2 linked regions of the Homo sapiens genome follow. Changing the gene in region 1 together with any one later gene gives a genetic interaction. Each region holds a gene or a part of one and is shown in the gene's direction. Other genes may lie near its edges.

The links. Genes that interact genetically often act in the same process or in processes that back each other up.
Region 2: changes in CAMLG (region 1) and KIF14 together harm fitness more than expected from each alone (negative genetic interaction), as found in Homo sapiens cells (one large-scale study listed by BioGRID).

What each region holds. Positions count from the first base shown.
Region 1 is NC_000005.10:134,744,207-134,749,270, forward strand, and holds part of CAMLG (guided entry of tail-anchored proteins factor CAMLG), read left to right. Parts: intron 1-5,064. UniProt on the Homo sapiens protein: Required for the post-translational delivery of tail-anchored (TA) proteins to the endoplasmic reticulum.
Region 2 is NC_000001.11:200,613,722-200,618,785, reverse strand, and holds part of KIF14 (kinesin-like protein KIF14), read left to right. Parts: 5' UTR 1-62; coding exon 63-1,174; intron 1,175-3,176; coding exon 3,177-3,431; intron 3,432-4,380; coding exon 4,381-4,468; intron 4,469-5,064. UniProt on the Homo sapiens protein: Microtubule motor protein that binds to microtubules with high affinity through each tubulin heterodimer and has an ATPase activity. Plays a role in many processes like cell division, cytokinesis and also in cell proliferation and apoptosis.

The sequences.
Region 1 (5,064 bases):
GTTTGTTATACATTAAGTTCAAAAAATGAGTAATTGGCCGGGCGCAGTGGCTCACGCCTGTAATCCCCACACTCTAAGAGGCTGAGGTGGGTGGATCACCTGAGGTCAGGAGTTCAAGACCAGCCTGGCCAACATGGTGCAACCCCATCTCTGCTAAAAATACAAAAATTAGCCAGGTATGGTGACGCACACCTGTAATTCCAGCTACTCAGGAGGCTGAGGCAGGAGAGTTGCTCCAACCCAGGAGGCAGAGGTTGCAGTGAGCCAAGATTGCGCCACTGCACTGCTCCAGTCTGGGTGACAGAGTGAGACTCTGTCTCCAAAAAAAAAAAAAAAAAAAGAGTAATTAGAAACTTTTATAGCAATTTGACATTGCCATAACATTGTTATTCTGTTTTACAAAAATACTGTGGATTGAGGTCCTTCATGAAAAAGTGTGAATAGTACTTGTTTAAGCAAAGTATTAAATTTAATTAGTAAATTTAGTAATTCATTTTGTCTATAATAAAGGAAATTAATTAAAAAATGGATTTGATTATCTCATTGTACTTCATATTGGACACTTAATAGCAGTGCACTTTATCTTCAGTGTTGAGGGCCTGATATTTGCAATAAATATTTGGCCAATATTACAGAACAGAATGATGTTGAGAGTCAATGTTTACCTGGCCTACTTGACTACAGATATATACAGTTTTATGAGGCTTGGCTTGCCTGACATAGACGATAGCCTAACTAGTGTGATCGAATTTTGTGGGAGCTTTTTGCTGAAAAAATTGCTACTTGGCTGTCTGCGTGTTATATTTAATGGGCTGACAGACCTGTGTATGATTTTAATGGATTTGAAGCATTTGTATTTTTGAAGGGTCAAATAGGTCAAATATAAGAAGTAAAAGAGTAAATAACATTGTAATTTTAATTAAGCATTTGTTTAGAAATTCACCTTTGAGGCGGGGCGCGGTGGCTCACGCCTGTAATCCCAGCACTTAGGGAGGCTGAGGCAGGTGGATCACGAGGTCAAGAGATCGAGAGCATCCTGGCTGACAGGGTGAAATCCCATCTCTACTAAAAATACAAAAGTTAGCCGGGCGTGGTGGCAGGCACCTGTAGTCCCAGCTACTCGGGAGGCTGAGGCAGGAGAATGGCGTGAACCTGGGAGGCGGAGCTTGCAGTGAGCCGAGATTGCGCCACTGTACTCCAGCAGCCTGGGCGACAGAGCGAGACTCCTCAAAAAAAAAAAAAAAAGAAAGAAATTCACCTTTGAGGCTGGGCGCCGTGGCTCACGCCCTAATCCCAGCACTTTCGGAGGCTGAGGGGGGTGGATCACCTGAGGTCAGGAGCTCGAGACTGGCCTGGCCAACATGGCGAAACCCCATCTCTACTAAAAATATAAAAATTACCCAGGCATGGTTGCGGGTGCCTGTAATCCCAGCTACTTGGGAGGCTGAGGCAGGGAGAATCACTTGAAACTGGGAGGTGGAGGTTGCAGTGAGCCCAGACTGTGCCATTGCACTCCAGCCTGGGCAACAGAGCGAGACTGTCTCAAAAAAAAAAAAAGAAAATCACCTTTGAAACATTGATTGTAGTTTTGCAGTAGCAAAGTTTGGAACCTAAATGTCCACTGAGTGACTACATTAAAAAAAAAAAATTGGCCAGGCACGGTGGCTCATGCCTGTAATCCCAGCACTTTGGGAGGCCGAGGCGGGCGGATCAGCTGAGGTCGGGATTTCGAGACCAGCCTGACCAACATGGAGAAACCCCGTCTCTACTACAAATTCAAAATTAGCCAGGCATGGTGGCGCATGCCTGTAATCCCAGCTACTCAGGAGGCTGAGGCAGGGGAATCACTTGAACCCAGGAGGTGGAGGTTGTGGTGAGCCGAGATCGCACCATTGCACTTCAGCCTGGGCAACAAAGCAAAACTCCATCTCAAAAAAAAAAAAAAAAAAAAATTATAACGTATCTATTCAGAATGAAGATGCTCTCAATGTACTGACAATGGTAAGCTCTCCAAGAAATATTAAGAGAAAAAAAAACAAAATTCAGAATAGAATCTATAGAATCTATACTAATTTCTTTTTGAAAAGAAAAAATAATGTATTATTTGATTTTGCTTATATATGCATAAACAAACTGAAAGACTATACATGAAATTATTAACAATACTTATGTGTGTGATAGAGATGTATATATGGGTACTATGTAAATGGAAGAGAGAAAAGGGAGACTTTATATATTCTCCCAACAAAACAGCATTTTGTTATAGCAGGGTTTTTTTTGCTTGTTTGTTTTTGAGACAGAGTATCACTCTGTCGCCCAGGCTGAAGTGCAGTGGCACGATCTCAGCTCACTGCAGCCTCCGCCTCCTGTGTTCATTCTCCTGCCTCAGCCTGCCAAGTAGCTGTGACTACAGGTGTGAGTGACCACACCCACTTAATTTTTGTATTTTTAGTAGAGACGAGGTGTCACCGTGTTGGTCAGTCTGGTCTGGAACTCCCAGCCTCAGGTGATCTGCCCACCTGGGCCTTCCAAAGTGCTGGGATTACAGGTGTGAGCCACTGCACCTGGCCTGTTATAGCAGTTTTTAAACACAAAAGTTGGCCAGGCGTGGTGCCTCACGCCTGTAATCCCAGCACTTTGGAAGGCCATGGTGGGCAGATCACCTGAGGCTGGGAGTTCTTGACCAACCTGGCCAACATGGTGAAACGCTATGTCTGCTGAAAATACAAAAATTAGCTTGGCATGGTGGGTACAGACCTGTAATCCCAGCTACTCAGTGTCTGAGGCAGGAGAATTGCTGACCCGGTGGCAGAGGTTTACAGTGAGCCAAGACAGCGCCACTGCACTCCAGCCTGGGCGACAGAGCAAGACTCCATCTCAAAAATAAATAAACACAAAAGTTGAAAGAATTGTGCCGTGAACACCCATTTATATAATACCAACGACCTAGATTCTACAATTAACATCTTATTATATTATGTATCTATCAGGTTTTCTTTTATTTTTCAAACCCAAGATAATCTCTGTAAAGTTTTTCCATCAAATTTTTCTTGATGCATTTCAAAGTATGTTGTAGGTGTACACATCGGTATACCTCACCCCTCTTACATAACACTGACTTACAATTTACTGTTTTAAGGTTCTTTAGGTAATTTTTTTTTTTTGAGACGAGGCTTGCTCTGTCACCCAGGCTGGAGTGCCATCTCGGCTCACTGCAAGCTCCGCCTTCCGGGTTCACACCATTCTCCTACCTCAGCTTCCCAAGTAGCTGGGACTACAGGCGCCCGCCATCACGGCCGGCTAATTTTTTTTTGTATTTTTAGTAGAGACGGGGTTTCACCGTGTTAGCCAGGATGGTCTCGATCTCCTGACCTCATGATCCGCCTGCCTCGGCCCCCCAAAGTGCTGGGATTACAGGCATGAGCCACCATGCTCGGCATTTTTTTTTTTTTTTGAGACGGAGTCTCGCTCTGTCACCAGGCAGGAGTGCAGTGGCACAATCTTGGCTCACTGCAACCTCCACCTCCCAGGTTCAAGCGATTCTTCCACCTCAGCCTCCCGAATAGCGGGGACTACAGGCACACGCCACCAAGCCCAGCTAATTTTTGTAATTTTAGTAGAGACGGGGTTTCACCATGCTGACCAGGATGGTCTCTTTCTTTTTTTTTTTTTTTGAGATGGAGTCTTGCTCTTTCGCCAGGCTGGAGTGCAGTGGCGAGATCTCAGCTCACCACAACCTCCGCCTCCCAGGTTCAAGCGATTCCCCTGCCTCAGCCTCCCAAGTAGCTGGGATTACAGGCATGTGCCACCACACCTGGCTAATTTTTTTTGTATTTCAGTAGAGACGGGGTTTCACCATGTTGGCCAAGACAGCCTTGATCTCCTGACCTGATTATCTGCCCACCTCGGCCTCCTAAAGTGCTAGAATTAGCTGGTCTCTGGTCTCTATCTCTTGACCTTGTGATTCGCCCACCTCCGCTTCCCAAAGTGCTGGGATTACAGGTGTGAGCCACCGCACCTGGCTTTTAGGTAAAATTTTAAGGTAAAATTAGTTCTGAGGCCGGGTGCAGTGGTTCACACCTGTAATCCCAGCACTTTGGGAGGCCGAGATGGGCGGATCACCTGAAGTCAGGAGTTCAAGACCAGTGTGGCCAACATGGTGAAACCCCATCTCTACAAAAATTTGCCGGGCATGATGGTGGGTACCTATAATCCCAGCTACCGGGGAGGCTGAGGTGGGAGAATCGCTTGAACCCAGAAGGCGGAGGTTGCAGTGGGCCGAGATCCTGCCATTGCACTCCAGCCTGGTCGACAGAGCAAGACTACGTCTCAAACAAAAAAAATTAGTTCTAATATGAAGAGTAGGGTACCAGCGTAATTAATTGATTGCTTGAAATGCTTGTCTTAATTGTACCATTTAATACGTTTGTTATCCTATGAAACCCATACCTCTTTCAAGGTTTATAACTTCACTGTCACCCCAGGAGTTTCTTTCATGCTCCTTTCCAGGCAGTCCCAGTCCCTATACCCCAAAGAACTTTTTCCCACGATAGATTAGTTGTGTCTGGCATAGTAATCCATGTAAGTGGGATCATTCTTGATTTTACTTTTTTGTGCAAGCCTTCTTTATTCCGCATGATATTTTTGAGATTTATCCATGTTGTTGGATAAATCAGTAGTTAATTCCTTTTTTTTTCTTGGCTCAGTAATACTACATTGTATGACTATATCCATTTATCTAGTCTCCTATAGATGGACATCCTGGTTGTTTTCAGTTTTGGGGTTATTATGACTAAAACTAAGAGCTTTCTTGTATGAGGCTTTTTGTGAGCATAAGCTTTCATTTCTTTTAGGTAACTATAGGGTTTTTTTTTTTTTTCAGATGGAGCTTTGCTCTGTCACCCAGGCTGGAGTGCAGTGGCACGATCTCGGCTCACTGCAGCCTCTGCCTCCCAGATTCAAGCAATTCTCCTGCCTCAGGCTCCCAAGTAGCTTGGATTACAGGCATGTGCCACCACGCCTGGCTAATTTTTTTGTATTTTTAGTAGAGACGAGGTTTCACCA
Region 2 (5,064 bases), on another chromosome or scaffold:
AATGTCCAAAGAAGAGCTTAGGGTCTTAGTAACATTCTTTTTTAAAATAACTGTCTGCCAAAATGTCATTACACAGTACTCATAATAGAAATAACAGCGGTGATATTCTTGATATTCCTTCTTCCCAAAATAGTTCATCACTGAATGCCCTCACCCACAGTAGCCGACTTAAGCTGCATTTGAAGTCGGATATGTCAGAATGTGAAAATGATGATCCATTATTGAGATCTGCAGGTAAAGTCAGAGACATAAATAGAACTTATGTTATTTCTGCCAGTAGAAAAACAGCAGACATGCCCCTTACCCCTAATCCTGTAGGTAGATTGGCACTTCAGAGGAGAACTACAAGGAACAAAGAATCATCTTTGCTTGTTAGTGAGTTGGAAGACACAACTGAAAAAACAGCAGAAACACGTCTTACATTACAACGTCGTGCTAAAACAGATTCTGCAGAAAAGTGGAAAACAGCTGAAATAGATTCTGTCAAAATGACACTGAATGTGGGAGGTGAAACAGAAAATAATGGTGTTTCTAAGGAAAGTAGAACAAATGTAAGGATTGTAAATAATGCTAAAAACTCTTTTGTTGCCTCTTCTGTACCTTTAGATGAAGATCCACAGGTCATTGAAATGATGGCTGATAAGAAATACAAAGAAACATTTTCTGCCCCCAGTAGAGCAAATGAAAATGTTGCACTTAAGTACTCAAGTAATAGACCACCCATTGCTTCCCTGAGTCAGACTGAAGTTGTTAGATCAGGACACTTGACAACGAAACCTACTCAGAGCAAGTTGGATATCAAAGTGTTGGGAACAGGAAACTTGTATCATAGAAGTATTGGGAAGGAAATTGCAAAAACTTCAAATAAATTTGGGAGCTTAGAAAAAAGAACACCTACAAAATGTACAACAGAACACAAACTGACAACAAAGTGCAGCCTGCCTCAGCTTAAGAGCCCAGCTCCATCAATACTGAAGAATAGAATGTCTAACCTTCAAGTTAAACAAAGACCAAAAAGTTCCTTTCTTGCAAATAAACAGGAAAGATCCGCAGAAAATACAATTCTTCCCGAAGAAGAAACTGTAGTTCAGAACACCTCTGCAGGAAAAGACCCCTTAAAAGTAGAGAATAGTCAAGTGACAGTGGCAGTACGCGTAAGACCTTTCACCAAGAGGTATGTGATGCCTTTTAAAATCTAAAGCCAAGCAGTTACATGTAAGGTACCTTTAATTCCTCTCTGCCTTTGGAAGGTCAGTGTATTCGTGCATCTTCAAACTTGTTGGCAATACTTTTATATAGAAAGAACTTTTAGGTCTAGTTGTAGTGTGTGTTGATAATTTTTGATCACTGACTATAAAATTAAAAAATTGAATCACCATATTTTGTATATTGAAGTTTCTCTAGATATATTGCTTTTAAAAAGTCTGAATAAGTCACTTAGGTCTCTAATGAAATCTGCTTTCAGATCTGCAATATATGCTGGAATGTTATACCTATCCCTTAAAAAGAGCCATAACAGGCCAGGTGTGGTGGGTCACGCCTGTAATCCCATTGCTTTGGGAGGTCAAGGCAGGCAGATCACTTGAGGCCAGGGGTTTGAGACCAGCCTGGCCAATATGGTGATACCCTGTCTCTACTAAAAATACAAAAATTAGCTGGGCATGGTGTTGCACACCTGTAATCCCAGCTACTCGGGAGGCTGAGGCAGGAGAATCACTTGAACCCGGGAGGCAGAGGCTGCATTGAGCTGACATCAGGCCACTGCACTCCAGCCTGGGCGACAGAACGAGACTGTCTCAAAAAAAAGAAGAGCCATAACAAATTACTGGTTCCCTAAAGAGGTCCTTTCAAAACCCTTTCCAGAGTGGTGATTATCATCATCATTGTCTCCGATTACTATATAGTAGTTATAAATGCAGTGATACATTAGATTTGATTTTGATGGCAAAAAATCTCTCTCTAAAAGTGGTTGTGGGTGGGGAAGACACAGATTAAAGATAAGGTTGGAAAAGATGGACATGACAAAATGTGAATGTGACAAAATGTAATTGTTTTAAAATATTTTAATGTAGTTGTTTAAAATATTTTAAGGGACAGTGAAAAACTTCACAGAGTTAGTAGTGTTTAACTTGAAGCTGTGTATCTAAGCAAGTTAGAAGAGGATTTGGTGACCACTGCATCAGGGCAGGAACCTCCAGTTTGAACCTAAGGGGTCAGTAGTTAAAGGCAAGTTATACAGTACTGTAGAATCTTTTTCGTGCAAATGGGTTAGTATTAAGAGGGAGAACTGAGGGTGAGTTGGTTTGAGAGAATTGGAATGTCTAATAGAGCCTCAAGAACCATGATAGGAAGAGAAACAATAGAAAGAGCTGGTAGGGACAAAATGCAAGATGGATGACTATACTGAACTTAGTAAGGGACCAAGTGCCTGATTCCAAACTCATCAGACAAGCCTTGAAAGCAGGGCCAGGGTAGAGTACTTGTCAAATTGATGAGGCAGGTGTTTTTTCCAGAATAAATTCTGATTTAAAGCAGTCTCAGAGTCAGGGATGGAGCGGGGAGGGAGTGTATATCTGGAGCCAGACAAAGAGTGATGATGTTTTTCTGTAGATCTAAAGTAAATGAAAGATTTCCACCTAAGTCTCAAAGGGAAAAAGGATATACAGAAAGATTCATGATTTTAAGGGAGAGAATCTAGAGGAAGGAGGAGAGATCTTTAGTAGCCAAGAGAGACTTATGATTGAAACTTACAGTCAACTGAGTTTGTTAAAATTAGATATTTGTATTTTATGCCAGCTTTATTTAGATTGGTACCCCCCCAAATTTGTATAATAAAGATGTAGATTTGGATGAAGAGTATAGGTAGATTATAGTAGGTGGGATGGGAAAAGGTATAGTTCAAGAGAAAAAAAAAAGAGGAAAAAATCTTGTAAAAGTAGGATAGGTTTTCTGGAGGAATCTGGGATTTTCCCTTTGGTGGCACTGGAGCCTCAGGAAATATATTTTGGAAACCCACTAGAATTATGTTTGCTTATCTGCATTTTCCACATAAAACTACAGAATTATCTTGCCTTGGAAGATTGTTTAAATAGTTTTGAGGTATTTATTATGTTCTGTGAGAATAATACCCTTGATCATTTTAGTTACTTGATTTTTTTCTTTGTGCTTCTTTCAAGAGAGAAGATTGAAAAAGCATCCCAGGTAGTCTTCATGAGTGGGAAAGAAATAACTGTGGAACACCCTGACACGAAACAAGTTTATAATTTTATTTATGATGTTTCATTCTGGTCTTTTGATGAATGTCATCCTCACTACGCTAGCCAGACAACTGTCTATGAGAAGCTAGCAGCACCACTCCTAGAAAGAGCCTTCGAAGGCTTCAATACCTGTCTTTTTGCTTATGGTCAGACTGGCTCTGGAAAATCATATACGTAAGTTGTATTGGAAATGCAATTATCCAGAAGTGTTTAAATATACTTTTGTGAGAAGTGGCATAGGGGTGATAGAAAGAATATAGTTTTGAAATCACACAGATCTTGGCCCAAATCTCATCCATTTTATATACCAGTTCTGCAAACTTGGGCAATTTACTTAGCCTCTGGGCTTCAGTTTATACATTTACCTTGATACAATTCATCTTGTAATTATCATTGGCCCCATTTTACTGTACTTTATATATTTTACATAAACTAAGGCCTAGAGAGGTTATCTTTTAAGTATTTTGGTGAGAATTAAAAGTAAGGCATCTAAGCTAGATGTGATGGCACACACCTGTAGTCTCAGCTACTTGGGAAGCTGAGGTAGGAGGATTGCTTAAGTGCAGGAGTTCGAGTCCAGCCTGGGCAACTTAGTCCCCATCTCTTAAGAAAAAAGGGTGGAGGGGCATCTGATAAATGGTAGCTATGATAATAATACCTGTCCTAGAAAGAAATACTCAGCATTTTAACAGTAGCTAACATTTGAGTTCTTTTTTTTTTTTTTTTTTTTTTTTTTTTGTAGCAAGGTTTGTTGTGAAGAGCGAAAGAACAGAGCTTCCACAGTCCACAGCGTGGAGGGGTCCCAAGCGGGTTGCCCAACATTTGAGTTCTTACTATATTCCAGACACTGTGCTAAAGACTTTGCTTATATTCTTTCACAACAATTCTCTGAATTAGATAGTTGTATTATTCCTGTTTTACAGTAGAGGAAATTGAAGTTTAGTGAGGTTAAATATCTTGGAGTCAAGATTTGGACTCAGGCAGATTTGACTCCAGAGTCCAGATTCTTAATTATGAGATTCAGTGAACTTGCTTCCTACTCCCTTCCCAGCCTATTTCCCCAAAAAGAATTTTAAAGAAAGAATTAGTTTTATTTCCCCCTTATTCATAATGTATTTTTCAGGATGATGGGATTTAGTGAAGAACCAGGAATAATTCCAAGATTTTGTGAAGATCTTTTTTCTCAAGTAGCCAGAAAACAAACCCAAGAGGTATGTTCTTATAATACCTGCAAGCTTCTTTTCAGAGTAGAAAATAGTCAAATCAAGTTCAAATCAGTCATGGCCACTAAGGAAATACTTAATGGAAGATCAGTTCTAATTTGTAGATCACTCTTCTTTGGAACAGTGGTATGGAGAGGGAGGGTGGAAATTCTAAATTCAGAATCAGTTTCACCTAGTGGGCAGTGATAGTGAAGTCATCTCTTCTGTCTTTTCTCCCTTGTTTTTGCTTTACTTTTGTGTATACGTAGAGGCTCACAAACATGGTAGCTATGTGCTGTTATACGTGTGTTTGTAGTCAGATAGGTGTACAGTTTAACTAAGGACAGCAGGCATAACCTTTTGGACAACGTGAATCAGAAAGAGTAGTGAAATTGGGATTTGAACCCAGAGTTGACTTCAAAAGCCATGCTTTTTCCACTCTACTACACCTGAATAGGCTGTACTGGCTTCCTATTTCACTTATTCATTTACACATTCAGCTACCTTTTACTGAGCATTCTGCTGTTGCCAGGCAGCTTGTTAGATCAGTTTTTTTTTTTCTCAAATTTTCTTGGTCATAAGAATCACCGGGGATTCTTGGCAGG